Homo sapiens: one gene and its partner. The protein of the gene in region 1 purifies or fractionates together with the protein of each later gene. This does not show direct contact. Each region holds a gene or a part of one and is shown in the gene's direction. Other genes may lie near its edges.

Region 1 (11,943 bases):
AGCCAAAACAGCATGGTACTGGTACCAAAACAGATATATAGACCAATGGAACAGAACAGAGGCCTCAGAAATAACACCACACATCTACAACCATCTGATCTTTGACAAACCTGACACAAACAAGCAATGGGGAAAAGATTCCCTATTTAATAAATGGTGTTGGGAAAAGTGGCTAGCCATATGCTGAAAATTGAAACTGGACCCCTTCCTTACACCTTATACAAAAATCAACTCAAGATGGATCAAAGACTTAAACGTAAGCCCTAGGACCATAAAAGTCCTAGAAGAAAACCTGGGCAATACCATTCAGGACATAGGCATGGGCAAAGTCTTCATGACTAAAACACCAAAAGCAATGGCAACAAAAGCCAAAATTGACAAATGGGATCCAATTAAACTAAAGAGCTTCTGCACAGTAAAAGAAACTATCATCAGAGTGAATAGGCAGCCTACAGAATGGGAGAAAATTTTTTCAATCTATCCATTGGACAAAGGGCTAATATCCAGAATCTACAAGGAACTTAAATGAATTTACAAGAAAAAATCAAATAACTCCATCAAAAAGTGGGCAAAGGATATGAACAGACACTTTTCAAAAGAAGACATTTATGCAGCCAACAGACATAGAAAAAATGCTCATCATCACTGGTCATTACAGAAATGCAAATCAAAACCACAATGAGATACCAACTCACGCCAGTTAGAATGGCGATTGTTAAAAAGTCAGGAAACAACAGATGCTGGAGAGGATGTGGAGAAATAGGGACACTTTTACATTGTTGGTGAGAGTATAAATTAGTTTAACCATTGTGGAAGATAGTGTGGCGATTCCTCAAGGATCTAGAACTAGAAATACCATTTGACCCAGCCATCCCATTACTGGGTATATACCCAAAGGATTATAAATCATGCTACTATAAAGACACATGCACATGTGTTTATTGTGGCACTATTCACAATAACAAAGACTTGGAACCAACCCAAATGTCCATCAATAATAGACTGGATAAAGAAAATGTGGCACATATACACCATGGAATACTATGCTGCCAGAAAAAAGGATGAGTTCATGTCCCTTGCAGGGACATGGGTGAAAGTGGAAACCATCATTTTCAGCAAACTAACACAGGAACAGAAAACCAAACAGCACATGTTCTCACTCATAAGTGGGAGTTGGACAATGAAAACATATGGGCACAGGGAGGGGAACATCACAAACTGGGACCTGTCATGGGTTGGAAGGCTAGGAGTGGGAAAACATTAGGAGAAATACCTAACGTAGGTGATGGGTTGATGGGTGCAGCAAACCACCATGGCATGTATATACCTATGTAACAAACTGCACATTCTGTTCATGTACCCCAGAACTTAAAGTATAATAAAAAAATTTATAGAGATCATTCTTTGTTTAGAATACTAGGCTGGACACAAAGAGTTAGGTTTTCAAGAGGTTTACTACCTAGTTATGATTAGAATTGACCACATGAAAGAAAAAGTCACAGAAGCCCAGACTTGGAAGGGATCTGAAGATTCAAGTCCAATCACTCTTGTGCTTGAGTATCCTTTTCCTCAGCAAGGCCAAGGGGTGCCCAGGCTGCTTAAACAGCTCTGGTGATCGACAGCCTGCAATTTCCTAAGCATAGTGTTCATCTCTAGATTTATCTTTGACTTTCAAAATTCCCCTTTGGGTGCGGTGGCTCACACCTATAATCCCAGCAATTTGGGAGGCTGAGGCAGGAGGATCACTTGAGCCCAGGAATTGGAGACTAGCCTGACCAACGTAGTATGATCCTGTCTCAAAAAAAAAGAATTCTCTTTGTAGTGAAATTTCACTCATCAGTCCCAGTTCCATGACAGTAGAAGCCAGCCTCCATGATGGCTTCTCCAAATCCCCACCTCCTGGTAGCCACATCCCTGCGGAGTTTCCTCCCACATTGACAAGAGTTGCTCTGCATGACTAACAACATGTGGCAAAAGTGATGGCATGCCACTTCTGAGATTGAGTTATGAGAGACCGAAGCTTCTGTTTGTGTTTTCTCCTGCTCATCTGCTCAGGCACACTCACACTCCTCACTGGCTATGGGGGATGCCAGCTGCCATGCTGCAAGGACACTCAGGCAGCCTATGGAGAAACCCACGTGGTGCGGAGTGGAGGCCTTCTGCCAACAGCCAGCTGGGAACTGAGGCCTGCTGACAGTCACGTGCATGCACTTGGAAGGGGATTCAGTTCCTGTCAAGGCTTGTGATGACTGTAGCCTCATCAGACAGCTTGGCCGCAACCTTCCTCCTCAAATCCTGAGCCAGATCTACCCTCTCATATACTCAATCTTCAGAAAATAAATGCTTGTTGTTTTAAAACTGTAAAATTTTGGGGAAATTTGTTATGCAGCAATAGATAACTAATGCAACCCCTTGAAGCCATTTATTTATTTATTATTGAGACAGGGTCTTGCTGTGTCATCCAGGCTGGACTGAAGTGGTGTGATCCGTAGCTCACTGCTACCTCAAATTCCTGGGTTCGAGGGATCCTCCTGCTTAAGCTGTGACTACAGGTGCACACCACCATGCCAGGATAATTTTTTGTGTAGACAGAGTCTCACTATATGCTTAGTCTGGTCTCAAACTCTTAGTATCAACTGATCCGCCTGTCTCAGCCTCCTAAAGTGTTGGGATTACAGGTGTGAGCCACCACACCTAGGACCATTCACTTATACAAGATAATATTTATGAGCATTTATAATATTCCAGGTGCTGATGTAAGTGCTTCACATGAATTAAATTATTTCCAGCCTGGGCAACATAGCAAGACATTGTCTGTACAAAAAAAAAAAAAAATTAGCTAGGTGTAGAGGTGTGCACTTGTAGTCCCAGGTACTCAGGAGGCTGAGGTGGGCGAATTGCTTGAGCCCTGAACCCAGAGGTCAAGGCTGTGGTGAGCTGTGATCAGGCTGTGGTGAGCTGTGATCATATCATTGCACTCCAGCCTGGCTGACAGAAAGAGACCTAGTCTGTAAAAAATAACAAATAAAAAGTAAAAGAATTAAATGATTCCCAGCAACCCTATAACATTTGTGTTATTATTATTTCAATTTCACAGATAAGAAAACTGAGAAGACAGAGAGGTTAAATATCTTTCCTAAGGTCACAGAACTGGTAAGTGGTGTACCGGGACTTGAACCTGGAAAATCTCCTCTCAGAGCTGTCTCAGGAGGTTGCCGTCAGGCTGTCGGCCAGAGCAGCAGTCGTCTCAAGGCTCAGATGAGGTTGAGAATCGGTTCCCAGGATCACGCCTATAGTTGTCGCAGGCCTCAGTTCTTTGCTCTCTGTCAGCTGGAGGCCTCCATTCCTCACCATAGGAACTTATTTTATCTGTGATTTTAAAAATGAGATCATGCCATGTAGGCTTTTTTTTTTTTTTTTTTTACCTTGCAACATATTGTAACTATTTTACCATGCAACTAAACATATTTCTAGCCATCGTTTTTGAAAGCTTTGGGTGCAAATTGCCAACTTGAAAAGGCAGAAATCCTTTAGGCAAATCAGCAAAAATACAGTGAAATACCCTATCACTTTATCTTTTTAAATTTGTGCATCAAAATAAGAAAACTTCATTTCCTGTTGTGCCTGGAGATTTCTTTAAGTCACTACAATAACAAAATGAAATTTATGTTTTTACTGGACAGCAGAGATTTTTTCTATCACTTATTACTATATACTAATTTTTATTTTCTTTTTTATAGTTACAAGACAAAACATAAAACTTGAAATTCTACTAAAGCTAAATATTCTTTCTTTGGTGCTAAATATAAAGATATGCAAGTTAACATGAATTATTCATTAGTGTAGTGACAGAAAAATATTCTCAGTAATTCAAAAATTATTACTGACTTGCCTGGATTATTACAGTCCTATTTTTGTAAGGTGTTGTGATAGTGCAAAATAGTTTGGCAGGGTGGCAGGAAAGTGCCCACCATCTCTGAGTTTCACACAAAGACATCCTACTTAGAAGCTCATTATTATTTGTTTATGGGAAGAAAACTGTGAGAGTAGCTTTGCATTGTTGGTTTCACACGTCATGGTGTATGTGAAATTGGCTTAAAAGAGCCCCATGCCAGTTGTCATGACAAACACAGACCCTACACCTTGGGGAAAAGGAAGCTGATAAGATGTATACCTTCAAACTGATGTTTGAGGCAGGAGATCACTTTAGAGAAAATTAATCCCTGTAGGGGGGGATCTAAAGAGAACTAAAACTTGAAAAGCAACAACATTGAAGCTATTTCAAGCAGAACTAATAAGTGAAACAAATTCTTCATTTTACCTGTTAAAAATGAAGGTTCTATCTTTTTAGCTGTAAGGTAAAGGAGGGTATAATATTGTAGGGCTTCCTGGTATATCACTCCTTAGGGTATCCGTAGTTACTTGTTTTGTACTCTTCATGTTGCTGGAGTATAATAAAAACTGATGACAGAATATCACGATTGTATTCTTTTCCATATTTTCCACCAATATTGTTCATGAAAGAAAGAAGTGTGTTTTCCCTAAATGTTAGTCTAAATCTGCAATGATTTTTTGATTTGGCATAGTTCCTTAAATCCTTACAGTGAAATACTCTTTAGGGGTTGGATTATACTTTGTGAAGAATATCTGTCATAAACCAAGCCACTTAATTAAATCACTGTATGAAATGTAAGTCAGAAAGTTATTCTAGGAAGTTTCTATAGTTTCAGAATCTCGATAGTCCAGGACACATTCTGGATTTAATTCTTTGTGTCCTTCTAATTCTTCTCTTTAAAAACTTCGTGTAGAGTAGAATCTGGTATCAGGTGATGGGAGCTATGTATTACACATTATTATGAATGTTACAGTTGACTAGTAAGAATTTGTGACTTTTGGGCAATAAATGGCAGTTGAAATACGATTTTTTTTTATTAAGAAGGAGGTCCAATCTAATTACTTTTTATAATAAATACCATGTCACAGAACCATTTCCATTTATTCAGTTGCTTTAAGTGTCACAGGTAGCCACTTAAAAGCACTAAACACATTGATATAAAAATAAAGCTTCATTTAAAGCTGGCCTTAAGTCTAGAGCTATTTTAACATTTTATTACTTTAATTAAGTTAAATATATAATTGAAATAACTATGAATAGTTAATTAATGGGTGAATAGCAAATGGTCCCAAACAATGCTTGAGTGGTCTCCATATAATCAAGCAATTATACACAATAAAGAGAAATACATGCAGGAGAGTCTATGTATTTGGATATTTTTCTATATGTTACTTTATGAATTATTCTTTCTGAGATTAGTCATATTAAAAGGATATACTTATGACCATTTTAACATTTCAGAGCTTAGTGGAAGTCCTTGAAAGTGAAAGTTTCAAATGCACAGGTACTTAAATTTTGTCTCCAGGCAAAGTATTTACATCAACAACACTTCTAGTTAATAGTTGGGGCTTTCCAAAAGAGAACTAATCAGTGGTTTCATCAATGTTTTCATTTTTTAAGGGCTTTAAAATCAGCGACTGTGTTTTCCAATTTTCAAGGAACATGGTTTAGACTTAGTGGGAGGCTTGTGACAAAGCTTTCTCTGCTGTGCGGCCAGCTGCAGACAGGACAGAAGAGGTTTCTGCAGCCTACTATGAAGGCCCTCACTGCTGGGAGAAGGTGGACAGGCAGAGGGACTGCCTGCCTCGTGGAAGTGTCTGGCGCCTTCACTGCTGCCCAGGTTTAGGTTTTATAGCAGATGCTTCCTATTTGCTGTGCGATCCTTATGCAAACAATCCTTACAACAGGCTCTCTGAGGAAAAAATTTTGTGTTTTTTTGAGTAGTACCTTAACATCTGACTTCAGTTTGTTCCCTTTATTTCTCTCTTCCATTCTGTTTATACTGTTAGGTTGGTGCAAAAGTAATTGCAGCTTTTGCCTTTTGAGATGAACTCTTGCTCTGTCACCCAGGCTGGAGTGCAGTGGTGGCGCGATCTCAGCTCACTGCAACCTTCACCTCCCAGGTTCAAACAATTCTCCTGCTTCAGCCTCCTGAGTAGCTGAGACTACAGGCACGCACCCCCAGGCCCATCTAATGTTTGTATTTTTAGTAGAGATGGGGTTTCACCATGTTGGCCACAGTGGTCTGGAACTCCTGACCTCAGGTGATCCACATGCCTTGGCCTCCCAAAGTGCTGGGATTACAGGTGTGAGCCACTATGCCCGGCCTTGCCTTTACTTTTAATGGCAAAGACACAATTACTTTTGCTCTAACCTAATAGATAGCCTATTCTGCAAATTAGTTCAAAAGCTCGAGACATATAAGAACGAGTTGTTTACCTGCTTAAAATAAACCTTCTTTCCTTGTTTCTTAGTAGTTGGAGAATTCTGAGGGTTCTTTAGGAAGAAAAGTCCATTATTTGGTAGTTATGCTCTCTTTGCAGGATGAACTAATTTTCCCTCAGCTATATGCAAGCCGTATTTTAAATTTTCCATCAAAATATAGCTCTGGGAAAGTTCATGACTAATTTATTCATCACAGACATTCCCTGTTAAGCCAAACTACAAATTAAATGAAATTAGAAAGGAAATTACACAAATTGAAGTAGCATTGGCCTGGAAATCGGGAAGCAGCCTCCAGTTCCGGTTCTACAACTTGGGAGGCATGTGATCTTGACTTGCTTGGTCGTGACTGGATTTCATTTCCCACACATCATTTGTGTGTGTGTGTGTGTGTGTGTGTGTGTGTGTGAATGAATATAATTGACAAATATCAATGAAATCTAATCAATATAGTGATATAATCAATATACATTTATCAAAATGATAAATATTTATAAGTATTATAATACTGTGTGTGTATAATATATATACACACATTCACATACATGTATAATATGTATAAATAATACAAGAATGAAATATATAGAAAATGTAAAGTTACCATACATAATATTTATATTTATTTATATATATTTATATCTATATACAGGTTTTCTCACTATATTTGTATATACGGGTTTTGTATATACACTGTATATGTATATACAGGTTTTCTCACTGTATTTGCTTAGGGTGTTCGTCTGGGTTCTAGACATCTATCGTGGCCCTCAGTTTTTCTCTCTTAGATGGATTACCCGGAAGATGAAGGTCATGAGTGCCAGACACAGGCCTTTGTCATCCGTTTAATGCAATAGAAGGCAGTGAAGTTATACTTTAAATATTATAAGCTCTTAGAATTTTAAATATATATATATATGTATGTTTAATGTTCATGTCATCCGAATATGAGCTCAGCGAAAAGTTCTTTAGAGGGACGATATCCTTTATACAATCGTATAATTTTATATGTTCACTTTGTCAGGTTAGAGATGCAGAAAGTGAAGCCCAGACAATTAGGCGCAGGTTCTGCCTGTTGGTTGACTTTGCTTTCATCACGTCAGATTACACACACAGACGGTGACCAGCGATGATCCAGGCGTCTCGGTCGTTAGCGGGTATCCTGGGGGCTGTCTCCCTGACCACGACCCCCCAGTGGGGTTTCTTTCCGAGGGTCCCGCCCCTCGCAGCTGCTCTTTGATAAAGGGCGGAGGAACGGGGCTGGCTGCTTCCCGAGTCCCCAGGTCCCGCGAGCGGCGGGCGTGTTGCGGGTATGGGGTGCGGCGCCAGCAGGAAGGTGGTCCCGGGGCCACCAGCGCTGGCTTGGGCCAAGCACGAAGGTCAAAACCAAGCCGGCGTCGGAGGCGCGGGGCCTGGGCCCGAGGCGGCGGCCCAGGCGGCGCAGAGGATACAGGTGGCTCGCTTCCGAGCCAAGTTCGACCCCCGGGTCCTTGCCAGGTAAAGCGCCACGTGAGGAACTGGCCTGGGACTGGGCTGACAAAGAAAAACCCCTGGCCAAGACCGCCTCGAGGTTCCCTTCAGCTTGACTCAATTTTGGACAGGGTTCTTTCGGATGATAGGCACTGATCTCCCCCTTTCTCTGCCCTTTTGAGATGTAAATCTTCTACAACCCAAGAGTGTCTTTTTCAGGCACCTGGCAGCCATCCCTTTGAAATGTAGTCATCAAGAGAGTTAGGGCCACTGTCTCCCAGTCTCTGTGGGAGGGCAGGAGCCTAACTTCCATAAGGGCCAGGTAGCAAACACAGATCTCATTGACCACCTCTCCCTAAGCTTCTCCCATTCTTTTCCACTGGCTCACCCCAGCGCTTAAAAACTTTCTTGCCTTTTGTTTCGAAGGCGTCCATTTTCTTTCCCCTGTTGCAGAAGCCTCGACTCCTATTGCAATAGTCTGGGATAAGCCTTCCTTGCTGTGTTCCATAAGTGCCCAGTACAATTTCTCTTTGACATCTCTGAACAGGGAGTTCAGAGGATGGGAAAAAAGAGAGCAGGAGCAGCAGCAAACAAGGGAAGGAATTCCTATCTTCGGAGGTGGGGGGTGGGGGTGTGAGAGGACTGTCTGCCAACCTCCAGCATCTGCGGTGGAAGACGGCTTTGCCTCTAATATCCTGGGGCTGGGTCCTGCCAGACCTGGTGTGTGAAGGATCTTCCACTAATTCTAAAAATTGGGATTACAGCGAGTGAACTAGAGATGCGCCTTTGAGTCAGCCAGACTTGAGGTCCAGTTCCATATCTTCTATCATGTACCATGTAGAACATTCCTTAGCTTTTTTCCTTCCTTCGTTTCTAGCTCTGTAAAATGGGAGTATCTATCTCATAAGACTGTTGTGAGCATAATTAAAGTAATACATGTAAATTATGCTGCACAGTGCATGGTACCAGTCCTCATGCAGACATTAGTGCAATGCTGATTATTGTTTTCATGAAGTACAAATAAGCCCTTCCTATGTAGAAGATTTCAGGTTGGTTGGCCTCCTGAGTGTACCATGTTGGACATGTTGGACATTTTGACCAAGTAAATCACGGAATCCCCTTCTCCTCTGTGTGTTTGGGGAGACACAATAATGGGTGGCTCAGCTGGCTTCCCAAGGCACTGCTGGTCCTAGAATTGCATGCTCACTTCGTCACAGTGCTCTGTCCAGAATCTATGCAGAGCCATTTCCTGGCCTCCTTGAGAACTTTTAGTACAGTGACTCCTGGAGGATTAGTTCGGTGGCTGCTAAGCTTACAGAAGAACAAGGCTGGCTAATATGACTGAACTGAATCTGAGTAGGTACAGGGTCTTGTCAAGACTGAATTGGTTAAATGGCATCTCTGGTCATTTGTAGTCAGAGAGATGATGCTAGTCTGGTCTAGTTTTCATCCACCCTACTAATTCCCAATCCAGGGGTAGACCCAGCCCCATAGAGTGTAAAGGCATCACAGAAGTAGAGGATCTCAACATTATAAGGGCTTCAGAGATTTTAACTCAAGGCTCATCTTTAACCAATGAGTAGTTGTGTCCCCAAAGGTTAAGTGACTTGTCCAAGTTAGTGGTAGAATTGGGACTAGAACACAGTCGTCTTCCTTCTCCGTTGTGATTCCATCTATAACTTTTGCAGAAAAGAGATGATAGAATTTAGATATGAGTATATTTACTTTCTTGTTGGGAGTTTATTATAATTGTTTCTCTCAAGCAGATTGTAACACTATTATTATTTCCTTGTTTCAAATCTTTAATCTATGTTCAAAAATTCCCAGTTTGTATCATAGCAGCTGAGGTTAAAGTAATATTTCCAATTTACGTAGTCTCTGGGATGATACAAAATTGTCCAACCTACTAAACTGACTCTGAGGCTACTCTTTAAGAGAGTGGAGGGGTAAAAGTGAAGGAAATGAAAAGACCTTATAAAGGCATTCTTCCCAGCTTGATGTGATCTTTACTTAATGTTTGCAAAATATATATGATGATTCAGGAATAATATGTATTCAGTGAATGATTCTTTTGTTCAGTGTTTATTGCTACTCCTCTGTGCTAGGCACTTTACAAGGTATAGCCACGCAAATCATAAAGTTGGTCACCATTCATGGCAGTTGAGGACTCACGAGCAAGGCTGTAGCTATAAGAATTTGTTATGGGACAAATTGAATAACAATCTGAGGCATTTATTTCCACCACTCTAAATCTTGGCTTCAAGTGTACTGTTTCCTCCAATGCCAAATTACTAGCATTTTTTCAAATATTGGAAATATGAAGCCCCCTTAACAGTATTGAATAAAGCTTCTTTTATTTGAGCAAAAGCGTGTAGTTCTCAGAAATGGTAGTTTGTTTGATATGATTAATTCTGTGAACAAATGAGTTTGATGGCAGCTTTGAGGGCATAGCGATAAATTAGCATTTACAAAGTGCTTTCATCCACAATAGAGGTAATATAAAACTTGGTTGGTCTGCAAAGCAATAGAATTTGAAATGCCTGTGATTATCTTCAAAATCACACTGAGAATGCATGTGAATAGAAAAGCAGAGTTGGAAAGGGAAAAGGGGAAAGAATCTATTTAAGATTACTAAATTGCTATCTGTTTTGATAAGGTAATTGGCCAGAAAATTAAATGCTCTGTGGAGAACAAAGCTGTTTTCTGTAATCTGGTACAGCCAAATGTCATTTTTATTCAATACACACAGGAATATAAAGAACAAACAAGAAGGCAAAAAAAAAAGTTACAGGAAAAATAAGCTCAATAAAAGAAGTAAGACTATTTAAAGCATAGTTTAGTATTTGCATTTGAATCTTTGGTATTGAATATGTGATATAAAAACGTGCCTTCTCCCTGGGTACTCCCTGAGTACATTCCATTCTCTGTCATCCTTAGCTAGGAGAGGTTTTATTAAAATGAAGTCCAGGCACAGTGGCTCATACCTGTAATCCCAACACTTTGGGAGGCTGAGGTGGGCAGATCACTTCAGGTCAGGAGTTCAAGACCAGCCTGGCAAACATGGTGAAATCCCGTCTCTACTAAAAAAAATACAAAAATTAGCCAGGCATGGTGGTGTGCACCTGTAATCTCAGCTACTCAGGAGGCTGAGGCAGGAGAATCTCTTGAACCCGGGAGGCAGAGGTTGCAGTCAGCCAAGATCATGCCACTGTACTCCAGCCTGGGTGACAGAGCAAAACTCCATCTCAAAAAAAAAAAAAAAAAGGAGACCTGCGTTCTAATCCTGACTCTACAACGTAAACAACCAATTGGCTAATGTGGTCTTCAAATTTCCTCATCAGTAAAACAAGAAGTTGGGTTAAATACCCAACTTTAATATTCTTTCCAGCTATACAATCGTGATTTTAAGTCTAGCATTTTCTCAACATGTCTTAAATATGAGGTAGAGGGTTAAATTTGATAGGATTCTATTTTATTTTATTTTTTTAATTTTTGAGACAGAGGTCTCGCTCTCTCACCCAAGCTGGAGTGCAGTGGTCTGATCACAGCTCACTGCAACCTCAAATTCCTGGGCTCGAGGGATCCTCCTGCTTCAGTCCCCTCAGTAGCCGGGGCTACAGCTGTGCATCATGATTGGCTAATTTTTAAATTTGTTATAGAGAAGGGGTCTCAGTTTTTTGCTCAGGCTGCTCTCAAACTCCTAGGCTCAAACAGTCTTCCCACCTCGGCCTCCCAAAGTGCTGGGATTACACGATGAGCCCACCGTGCCTGGCCAGATTCTTAAATTTTAATAGACGTTTACACAGATAATTAAAGCTTAAGATCCCTAGCATTTGAAATCTGAGCTGATATCCTGGCCTTTTTTTCTTCAACTTTTATTTTAAGTTCAGGGGTACATGTGCAGGATGTGCAGGTTTGTTACGTAGGTAAACATATGTTCTTGGCCTTTTTGTGGGATAATTGGTTTACAAATTATTGACATACATTCCATGTTAAAATTCTCTTTACTGCCGAGAAATTCCAAGTGTGGGTATGGGGATGGAGGGAGACTGTGAGAAGCTACTGGCTGCAAGGTGGCCCTAACACTACTCCCACCAGACTGCTGAAACCGGCTCTTATAATAGCACAGCTGCATTTAC
Region 2 (11,166 bases), on another chromosome or scaffold:
AGCTGAACTGCTGGGAATTCAGGGGTGAGGCAGACCCAATCCCTGCCCTCACTCTTACATCTCCTGTAGCCTAGCCCAATGTCTAGCCCAGGGCCTGGCACAGTAGGGCTTACGGATGGCAATCTCATTGGAAAGTTTGTCTTGAAACTGCCTTTGCAAAACAAACACTGCTTTAACTTACCTTCTATGCTAAATATATTAATAAACATTTTCTCAAGATGCATTGTCCACTAATAGCTTAGTGTTGAAGAACAGGCCTTGGGTCAGATGGACCTGGATTAAAATCCCTGTTCCCTCCTCTTACTGCTTGAGGGACTTTGGACATGTTACCTGACTTCTCTGAACTTGAGCTTCCTGATCTGTAAAATGGAGACAGTAATACCTCACAGGGTTGTTGTGAGGTGAGGAGCCTGCCCTATAGCAAGTGTCCTGCCATATAGCAAGTGCGCAGTAAACACTGGCCATTCTTCTTCTTGGTGTGATTACTGGGAATTAGTTGCCATTGTGCTGTTGGGACTGGTGACAGAACTCTTGGATTGAGAATGCCGAGATGGTGCACGGAAGATTCTGTGTGCTCTTTCAGACCAGGAGGAGGATGAGGAGGAGGAAAGTTTATATGACGTAAATTCATTTGACCGTAAGATATGTATTTAAACATCGTGGAGGATCTTGGGGGTCTGATGGGGAGTGGGGTTGCTGAAGCTCCAGCCACCCCTAGGCCCTCCACCTGGCAGGACCAAAGTTGGGGCAGTAGCCGAAGCACCGCCCCCCGGGCCCCGCAGGAGTGTGCAGTCACCCAGTTAGGCCTATCTTGGCCTGCCCATCACTCCTGGCCTGCGGTCTCCTAACCCTGTGGCAGCAGCAGCATTCCCTGAATGGATCGAAGGCTGCCATGGTGTCGTCCGCTGAATTGCTATAGGAGTCAGCCCAGGGCTGCTCATGTGCACCTCAGGTTGCTGATGGCAGCTCTAGTTATTTGGGGATGGAAGTTTGGGGAGAGTGGGCCTTGGTCCACCCTGTGCGAAAGGGAATTCCACAGCCCCCCGGGCGCCCGCCCCCGCCCCCGCCCCGCCCCCTCCCCGCCCCTTCCCCGCCGGGCCCCGGGCCCCGCCCCCGCTCTCCATAGTTACCGCGCTGTGGAGGCGGCGGCCATCTTGGCGGCGGAGCGATGAGCGGGTCTAACCCGAAGGCTGCGGCCGCGGCGTCGGCGGCTGGGCCCGGGGGGCTGGTGGCTGGCAAGGAGGAGAAGAAGAAGGCGGGCGGCGGCGTCCTGAACCGCCTGAAGGCGCGGCGGCAGGCGCCCCACCACGCGGCCGACGACGGCGTCGGGGCAGCGGTCACGGAGCAGGAGCTGCTGGCGCTGGACACCATCCGGCCCGAGCACGTCCTGCGCCTCAGCCGGGTCACCGAGAGTGAGTGCCGCGCGGGCCGCGCCCTCCCCTCGCGCCGTGCCCCGGCTCCCGGAGCCTTCAGCGGACCCGGCCACTTGACCAGCGCGGGGGTCCCCGCCAGACCCCCTCGGCCGGCCGGGCCGCGCTTCCCGCTGCCCCGCCGGCCGGGCTTTGCTCCCGCCACGCTCACGTAGCTCTGGTGGGGAAGGACTCTCCTGGGCTGGACCGCATTCCTGTGAGTCCGGCCACGCTAGGATGCCCTTCGGCCGGTCGGCTCCCCAGCTCTGCCGGACCTGTTTGGGTAGAGGGCCCCGTTCAGCTGAACTGGATCCTCCTGAGCCGGCCGGGGGCCGAGGTCCCCTAATAAATGGGCCCCTGGGCCCTCAGCCTGGAACCCCCGGCCATCAGTGAAGTTCCCGCTCAGCCAGGCTCCCCCAGCCCTCTGGCAGGCCAGAAGCCTTACCTGCTTCCTCCGCCCTGGCCCCATGGCAGCCCTCCCCCATTGCAGCCTGCCCGGCCTCCCTCCCTCTTTGGGTCGGGAGCGTTGCCCCTTAGTGTGCAGATGGGTTCTTCCTCAAAACACATAGCCGTGGCATTTCCTGCTCATTTAAAACTGTGCCACATTAAAACAAAAATAAAGTTTCAGTTTGTGTACAGACTCCGACATGTGAATCCTGCTTTTGACATTCTCGTGAATTAAGAATGATTTCAGAGTTTCAGAAATGCGTTTCCTGCACAAAAGGCAACCATCCTAAGCTTTTTCGTTGATAGGAGGATGGGTGGGAAGAAAAATGTTGCCCAGTCCCTGCCCTGGGTGATCTCCCTTTTTCTGTTCTCTGCCAAGCCAGTCCCTGACTTGACGTCTTTTCTCTTGCTGCTGTTTTCCCTGCAGGAGTGTGCACTCACCTAGTTAGGCCTATCTTGGCCTGCCCATCACTCCTGGCGTGCAGTCTCCTAACCCTGTGGCAGCAGCAACATTCCCTGGATGGATCGAAGGCTGCCATGGTGTCTGCTGAGCTGCTATAGCAGGCAGCCCAGGGCTGTTCAGGTGCACCTCAGGTTGCCGATTGCAGCTCTAGTAATTTGGGGATGGAAATTTGGGGGGAGTAGGCCTTGGTCCACCCTGTGCGAAAGGGAATTCCCATTTCCTAAAAGAGTTTTAATTTGATTCTAGATATTTGGATGCCCCCGTTTCCCAATACTGTTTGGGTTGAGACTGTCCTTACCAGACCTGAACGTATCTTTAGACATTCTTGTTAGTTTTATTGAAACAGTGTGAAAAAGCTTCTTTTCTTCTGAACCAGTTTTCATTTGGGGCTCTGAAAGTACAGATGCTCAGCACCTGGTCTTGGTAACCTCATGCCCTCTCCTGCCATCCAAGTGAGTTAGGGTATTCTGTGCCTGGCCCTAAGCAGGATTCTCAGTGGGCACTCAGATCCTATCTGGGGGCTTGGGATTGTTGCTCATTGTCCAAACCCACCTCTGCAGCTTCTTAGAGTCTGGCAACCTCTTTGTTACTCTTCTTAACGTCTCGTTCATTCTATCCAGCAGATTATTTGAGTACCCTCTAAGAGTCCAAAGCCAATGTTAGCCTTTTTAGCAGTTACAGAATAATCAGTAGTTGTCAAGTTTGTCGTCTTAATAAAGAGACAACTTGTAAAACACGAAAACAACTAACTCAGGCAATAAAAGATCAAGTATCAAAATGAGCTGTGGAGAAGATGCTATCCGGAATCATCCTAGAAAGAAATCAGTGAAATTTGCTGTGATTAGAATTATTTCAATTTGCGGCTCATGTTCTAGTCACTTGGGCCTAATGTCTTCACCGGCAGATTTATCCTCTTGCCTGGATATGTATGATATGTATTGTCTACTGTATGATTTTGTGTAGCCCACAAACTAAGATTAGGTTTGTACATTTTTAAATGGTTGAAAAAAACTTTAAAATCTTGAGACACGTGGTTATGTAAAATTCATATTTCAGTGTCCATAAATACAGTTTTACTGGAATATAGCCACATTCATTCATTTGCGTATTGTCTGTGGATGCTTTTGTGGCTACAATGATAGAGTTGAGTAGTTGTGACAGAGACCATGTGGCGGCAAAGCCTAAATTATTTAGAATCTGGCTCTACAGAAAAGTTTGCTGATCTCGGCTTTCTTACACTGACAGTTGGCAAACTAACGTTGGCAAACTAGCACTGTATTATCTGCTAAGTCAGTTTAAATGTCTTAGATTGGAATTCTATAAAAAGTTCGCCCTGTTCTGACATCCAACTTGATAGATGATGAAAGATTTTTATGTGTTTCCAAAGAAATCCACCTTTTCTATCCTAGTTTCTAAAAGTTTTGCAATTTTTCATCCAAAGCAAGTCCTTGTTATTTTTTTTCTTTGTTGGATCCCCTAATTCTGTCCATACAACTTCTGCTGGTGATAACACATGAGAAAGTTTTTGGGAGTATTTTAAGTGTGTTGTGTAAGAAAAAATCTGAGTTTGCTTCAAAACTTGAGAATTAAATAAATGGTAGTTTTGGAGGATTATTTAACAGTGTTGGTTTCTCTCTCTTGTTTTCAGATTATTTATGTAAACCCGAAGACAACATCTACAGTATTGATTTCACCCGCTTCAAAATTCGAGATTTGGAGACAGGGACAGTACTTTTTGAGATTGCCAAACCTTGCGTTTCAGGTAGGCCTCTACGTTGTGGTGACCACTAGACAGTTTTGAGCCAAAGGTCTTTGAAACTCAAATCTTTGTGTGCCACTGCATCCTGTTTCTTGGACTCCAGTGTGTCCCACTTCTGTGACCTCTTCCCGTGGCCTGGTCTGCCAGGCATGGTGGTTTGAAGCTGCGTTCAGAGGCTGATGTTTGTTGGATGTCTATTCTGTGCTGGTCACTGTGTTCCACGTCTTTGTGCACATCAGTGTATGTAATCCTCACACCTCTTTGAGGAATTACTGTTATCTCTGTTTTACAGCGAAGGATCTGAGGCCTACAATTCCCAGGCGGCTCTTTCCTAAGGCCCTGTGCTGGTTCATCTTACCATGTTGCCTCCAGTTGGGAAAGGAATCCTTGAAATTAAACTATAATGAGGAAAACTCACCTGAGCCTGGTGCCCTCTTGGAGGGTGATAGGGAGGATCCTGGTCCAGACATGAGGCAGTTTGAGCCATCTTCTTGCTCTCTTTTACATATTGCCTTGGAGTTCCCAGACCTAGTTTGGATTTTAATCTCAACCATTTTCTGGAAGAACAGACCCAGGAACTCAACTACTTGGGGTTCCTTAAATTAGCCTCCCATAGCCGCTTCCTGTGCTTGTGATAAAGTGCCAGGCTGATCTGGACCACAGAAGCCTTTGGAGCACCTCACTGGAGGTTTAGCGCCCCCTGGAGTTAGTCATTTGTTAGAACACTGGTACAGATACCCATAGTATCAGTGTGGTTTGTAAACTTACTTTGCAGTGTTTCTCATCTGATTTGCTACTTAGAGCCTGCAAATTTGATAAGGCCCCGATTTCACCCCTACCTGGTGGTATTTATGCTATCATAATCTCATACTGACCAAGGCACCTAAAGGCTCAAGTTCATGGGTAATTTTGTTGTTGTTGTTTTGTGGGTTTTTTTTTTGTGTTGTTTGTTTTGAGACACAGTCTTGGTCTGTCACCCAGGCTGGCGTGCAGTGGCACAATCTTGGCTCACTGCAACCTCTGCCTCCTGGGTTCAAGAGCTTCTCCTGCCTCAGCCTCCCAAGTAGCTGAGATTACAGGTGCCCACCACCATGCCTAGCTAATTTCTGTATTTTTAATAGAGACGGGATTTCACCATGTTGGTCAGGCTGGTGTCAGACGCCTGACCTTTGATTCGCCTGCCTTGGTCTCCCAAAGTGCTGGGATTACAAGCGTGAGCCACCGCGCCTGGTTGCTTATGGGTAGTTTTTTATTGGGATGGTCAGATCAAGACCAGCTAGCTTCCTGGGTCTGTGGTGTTCTCATCTCTAAGCCACATATCACAGTACCTGGGACATTGCAAGGACTCCAGGCCTACTACAGGTATGTGGATTTGGATTAGACTCAAGAGTTGTCATTTCAATATAAGACGGAACTGTTTCAAGAAGGTCAGCTGAAGATACTGTAAAGTATCTTGGTTTTCAGTCTCTCTAGTTTTTACATTTAAGGATCTTGATTCACTTGTAATATTCCCCACATTGAGGCTGGGTGCGGTGGATCACACCTGTAATTCTAGCACTTCGGGAGGCTGAGGCAGGCAGATCACTTGAGCCCCAGGAGTTTGAGACCAGCCTGGGCAACATGGCAAAACCCCATCTGTACAAAAAATACAAAAAAATTAGCCAGGCGTGGTGGCACATGCCTGTGGTCCCAGCTACTCAGGAGGCTGAGGTGGAAGGATGGCTTGAGCCTGGGAGATCAAGGCTGCAGTGAGCCGTGATCACTGCATTGCACTCCAGCAAAGGTGACAGAGTGAGACCCTATCTCAAAATAAATCAATAAATATAAACAACAGATTATCCTCACACTGAATCACTACCTTTCTGCAGCACTTGTTCTGATGAATTTGAATCCCCAAGATTTGCTGTCTCTCTGAGTCACATTGTTGGAGCCAGGGTTTTAGAGTCTCTGGGGGTGAACCCCTACTCAGCCTGGTTGCCCAGTCGCTCTTGGGCTTGTCAAAAGCAGAGATGTTTGATGCTGAAAAAGTCTTCTCTTATGTTGTACTCATGTACAGCTTAGACCTGGAGAAAATATCCTCACTGGACACTGGAGGGTACTAACTCCTATTCACATTAGAATGCTTGTTCTCTGATTCTTTTTTTTTTTTTTTTTTTTTTTTTTTTTGAGACGGAGTTTCACTCTTGTTGCCCAGGCTGGAGTGCAATGGCACAATCTCGGCTCACTACAACCTCCGCCTCCCGGGTTCAAGCAATTCTCCTGCCTCAGCCTTCCGAGTAGCTGGGATTACAGGCATGCGCCACCACGCTGGGCTAATTTTGTATTTTTAGTAGAGACAGGGTTTCTCCATGTTGGTCAGGCTGGTCTTGAACTCCTGACCTCAGGGGATCCGCCTACCTCGGCCTCCAAAAGTGCTGGGATTACAGGCATGAGCCACCGTGCCCAGCCCTCTGATTCATTTTACAAATCTTTCATCTCCTGGGTTCAGGAATGGACTAGACCGGAGACCAGCATTAACCTTGTAGAGGCCACCACATCTGCTTCACCCTTTCCCAGGTGGTCAAAGGGTTAGGCCTGGTATGGCCTAGAAGTAAACATCAGTCAAGGAACTATAGTATCCCAAGGCTGTAGGTCAATGTCTTCTATTTAAATAACAAAATTATTTTTAGTGGTTTATCTTTGCAGCCTGTCAGAAATTTTTATATTCATTGAAATAACTTTCTGATAAGTGTCAACTTTTGTAGCCTCATTCTTTTAGGTTGGTGCTAGCGCTTCAACTTGGTTAACTGCAGACCTAGTCTGAATAGAATAGACCATGTCAGAGGCCCAGTTCCCAGCTTGTGTTTCAGGTTTCACCCTTAGGATATGGCATAAGCTCTCAAACTATTAAAAAAGGCTAATAGCTTAGTGTTGAAGAACAGGCCTTGAGTCAGATGGACCTGGATTCAAATCCCTGTTCCCTCCTCTTACTGTTTGAGGGACTTTGGACATGTTACCTGACTTCTCTGAACTTGAGCTTCCTGATCTGTAAAATAGAGACAGTAACACCTCGAAGGGTTGTTGTAAGGAGTCTGGACTATGGCAAGTGTCCTGCTATATAGCAAGTGCGCAGTAAACACTGGCCATTCTTCTTGTTGGTGTGGTTACTGGGATTGGTTGCCATTGTGCTGTTGGGACTGGTGATAGAACTCTTGGATTGAGAATGTCGAGATGGTGCACTGAAGATTCTGTGTGCTCTTTCAGACCAGGAGGAGGATGAGGAGGAGGGAGGTGGAGACGTGGACATCAGCGCAGGACGTTTTGTCCGCTATCAGTTCACACCGGCATTTCTCCGCCTCCGGACAGTCGGGGCTACGTGAGTACCATTACTACCTGAGGGGAGAACATTCTGTTTGTTCACAGAGAAGAGTGTTTTCGGTTGGGTTTTGGGTTGGCTTTAGAGGAGGGAGGAGGCAAAGTCGGGCTTACAGAGATTTATTTTCCAGGGTGGAGTTCACAGTGGGAGACAAACCTGTTTCAAACTTCCGGATGATCGAACGGCACTATTTCCGGGAACACTTGCTGAAAAACTTTGACTTTGATTTTGGCTTCTGCATCCCCAGCAGTAGGAACACTTGTGAACATATCTATGAGTTTCCCCAGCTTTCGGAGGATGTCAGTATGTATCCCCTGACCCTTACAGCACTCTAGATTCTGAGGGCTACAAGGAACAAACCTTGAAACCCATCTGGTCCAGCGCCCTGGCATTGTCTCGTGGCAGTGCTGACATGATGCGTATCTAGTCATTTGACCTCAGGCTTCTCATTTCCTATTGCTCCTGGCTCCTGTTCTAAACTCTGACTCGGCCCGTATGGGAGCAATGAAGGGTTTGTTTGTTTTTGTTTTTGTTTTTTTCCCCTGAGACAGAGTCTTGCTCTGTCTGTTGCCCAGGCTGGAGTGCAGCAGCGCGATCTCGGCTCACTGTAACCTCTGCCTCCCAGGTTCAAGCGATTCTCCTGCCTCAGCCTCCTGAGTAGCTGGGATTACACCACACTTGGCTAGTTTTTGTATTTTCAGTAGAGACGGGATTTCACCATGTTGGTCAGGCTGGTCTCGAACACTTGACCTCATGATCCACTCTCCTCGGCCTCCCACAATGCTGGGATTACAGGTGTGAGCCACTGCCCCCGGCCCTTTTGTTTTTTTCTTTTTTTTTTGAGACGGAGTCTTGCCCTATTGCCCAGGCTGGAGTGCAGTGGCGCAGTCTTGGCTCAGTGCATCCTCCGTCTCCTGGGTTCAAGTGATTCTCCTGCCTCAGCCTCTCGAGTAGCTGGGATTATAGGCACCTGCCACCATGCCCGGCTAATTTTTTGTATTTTTTGTAGAGACAGAGTTTCACCATGTTGGTCAGGCTGGTCTCGAACTCCTGACCCTGTGATCCACCTGCCTCATCCTCCCAAAGTACTGGGGATTACAGGCGTGAGCCACTGTGCTCAGTCTGAAGGTTTTTTTTTTTTTTCTTTTTGAGACGGAGTCTTGATCTTGTCACCCAGGCTGGAGTGCAGTGGCGCAATCTCGGCTCACTGCAAGCTCTGCCTCCTGGGTTCATGCCATTCTGCCTCAGCCTCCTGAGTAGCTGAGACTACAGGTGCCCACCACCATGCCCGGCTAATTTTTTGTATTTTTAGTAGAGACGGGGTTTCACCGTGTTAGCCAGGATAGTCCCAATCTCCTGACCTCGTGATCCGCCTGCTTCGGCCTCCCAAAGTGCTGGAATTACAGGCTTGAGCCACTGCGCCCGGCCGGTCTGAAGGTTTTAATAATACAGGCCATCCTTTTAGATGCCTCCTGTGGGAAGACAGTGCCTAAGGGAGATAAAAGGAGGCCTGTGACCATCCCTGGGACGCTGATCAGATAAAGCACCTCTCCTGTGCACTGTTAGTCATGGTTTTCCATTGTGTTTTAGTCATTGGCCCTTCACTTTTTTCTTAATCAGAGCTAGATGTGAAACTGCAGGCTAAATAGAATCAAGGCCAGAGGACTTCTTTTCCATTCCCTGCAGGATAGAGAGTTGATTGGATAAAGTGTTGAGATAGATCCAGCAGGAAGGAATGGGGCTGTTGTAGATTTTGGGGCAGGAGTGAGAAGGTGGAAATACTGTTTGAGGAAGAGTGGCCTAGACCTGGGGAGGGCACCAGAGGGAGAAGGCTGCTGCCGTGTAGCCTCGGCAAGGGAAGATGGGGACCAAACGAGAGAGAAAGAACAGCCCTTGTCAGTTTCTGCAACTTTGGCCTAGCCACCTCAGGTTCGCATCCTTTGTGAATAGTTAGGGAAAATTCAAGTCATTTATGAGGGTGTGAATAGAATCCTGTGACTAGTGATGCCTGTAGTTGCCTTGCTGGCATCACTGATTGGTCCTCTCAGAATCCCAGGTCCTTAAGAATTGTCATATTCTGAAAACCAGATAACCTTTAATCGTGTGGCAGTACAGTTCCCAGGTAAAATGAGGATTGCTGAGATGTGGGGCAGGGTGTTGACGACAGCATCTGGTTCTGACTTGAACCCCTCTTCCCAAGCTGGCTAGAATATGTAGATACTTGCAAGAAAAGATGATGTATAGTGTTATAAGTTTTACCCATGAAGCCAAATCAGCCTGGAGGGCAATATTATGCATATAAACCGAGTAGTTTTGGCATTGGTGGGTTCAAAGAACTTTAAAAAATCAGTTTCACTTTTTGAGAACTGTGGTGAGCAACAGCATTTCCTCCAGGGGACTCCAAATGGCATGTAATCATTAACTCAAAACTGATCAGAGGTAGTATTATCTTTATTCTCCAGTATGGTTAAAGACTCAAAATGGCATGTAATCATTAACTCAAAACTGATCAGAGGTAGTGACTGTTAATTATCTTTACTCTCCAGTATGGTTAAAGAGGTCTGGGCAATTGCCTGAACAAACAAGACTTTACTTTAGATCCCAAGACAGGCAGACCTATTGCTGAATCATTTGCGAGTTAATACCCAGAAGGTCTCCGGAGAAGGCTCCCTGCCCTGTGTTCCTTGCACTCATTCCAATCTAGGTTTCCTTGGGTTGTCAGGGTTGTGTGTGGAGGTGGGCACAGTGAGGCTCAGATTTCTGAATTTGGAGTGGAATGTCTAGAGGTGGGCCACTGACCAGAGGCCAGGGCTGGCTTTGGTCAGCTGAGAGCACTGAGTAAATAGGTTGGTGGGGTCCATGTTGGGAAGAGGGGTGAGCACATTTCCCTGGTATCTTGGCTGAAGAATCCAGGCTGGAGATGACAGAGGAGGCCATGGTGGAGAGTTGATTGCATCCTTATGTTGAAATGGAGATCATGTTCAGCTGGGGGGCCTCTGTGGTCTCCCCAGCTGTCAAGGGCTGCCTCCCTCTGTTCTGACCTCATCGTTATTCTGGCAGAGTATACTCTGAAGCGCTGGCTTATTTTGGAGGGGATGCAAAGTTTTCTCCCACCTACCCTGTGGGGCAGACTCAAACATAATTCTTTGCTTTTTTCTTCCCCCTTTGCCTGACTTGCAGTTCGTCTAATGATTGAAAATCCTTACGAGACCCGCTCTGACAGCTTCTACTTTGTTGACAACAAGCTGATAATGCACAACAAGGCTGATTATGCCTATAATGGAGGCCAGTAAGTGCTGCAAGAGTAGATAGGGGAGGTGCTTTGCCGCGGCCACAAGATCCTGGCACACGGAGATGATCGAAGCTGCAGTTTGTCAACACACATCTGGAACCTGGCCCCAGGAAGCCAAGGCTGGGGTGGCAGTTTCCTGCGCGCCAAAGGAGCTGCCAAACAGTGCTGTGTTTTCTTCCCCAGTATTTTTTCTTCCCTTTTTTTCCTGCCCCGTAGGTTGCAGAGGTACTATAGTAAAGTAAAAGGTTAGGATAAGGGTCCTGGAATCCAGATAAAAAAGTTTATTTTCCGTAGTTCTGGCTGCCTGTTGGTTGTCTTGACGACCAGGCATAGCTGTGCCTGGTGAGAAGGCTCTGGCCAGGCCCACCAGCAGGTCAGCAGCTCTTAAGGTTCCTGGGTGCTGTGGGAAGCTGAAAGGTAGGCCTCTTCCAGGTAGCTCCT

Evidence for each region.
Region 2: the proteins of PSKH2 (region 1) and UNC119B purify together in Homo sapiens (affinity purification with mass spectrometry; 3 studies listed by BioGRID and IntAct, with this or other methods). This does not show direct contact.

The regions. Positions count from the first base shown.
Region 1 is NC_000008.11:86,065,326-86,077,268, reverse strand, and holds the start of PSKH2 (serine/threonine-protein kinase H2), read left to right. Parts: upstream 1-7,646; coding exon 7,647-7,831; intron 7,832-8,351; coding exon of another isoform or gene 8,352-8,422; intron 8,423-11,943.
Region 2 is NC_000012.12:120,709,307-120,720,472, forward strand, and holds the start of UNC119B (protein unc-119 homolog B), read left to right. Parts: upstream 1-1,151; 5' UTR 1,152-1,168; coding exon 1,169-1,412; intron 1,413-3,967; coding exon 3,968-4,081; intron 4,082-7,321; coding exon 7,322-7,433; intron 7,434-7,563; coding exon 7,564-7,736; intron 7,737-10,613; coding exon 10,614-10,726; 3' UTR 10,727-11,166. UniProt on the Homo sapiens protein: Myristoyl-binding protein that acts as a cargo adapter: specifically binds the myristoyl moiety of a subset of N-terminally myristoylated proteins and is required for their localization.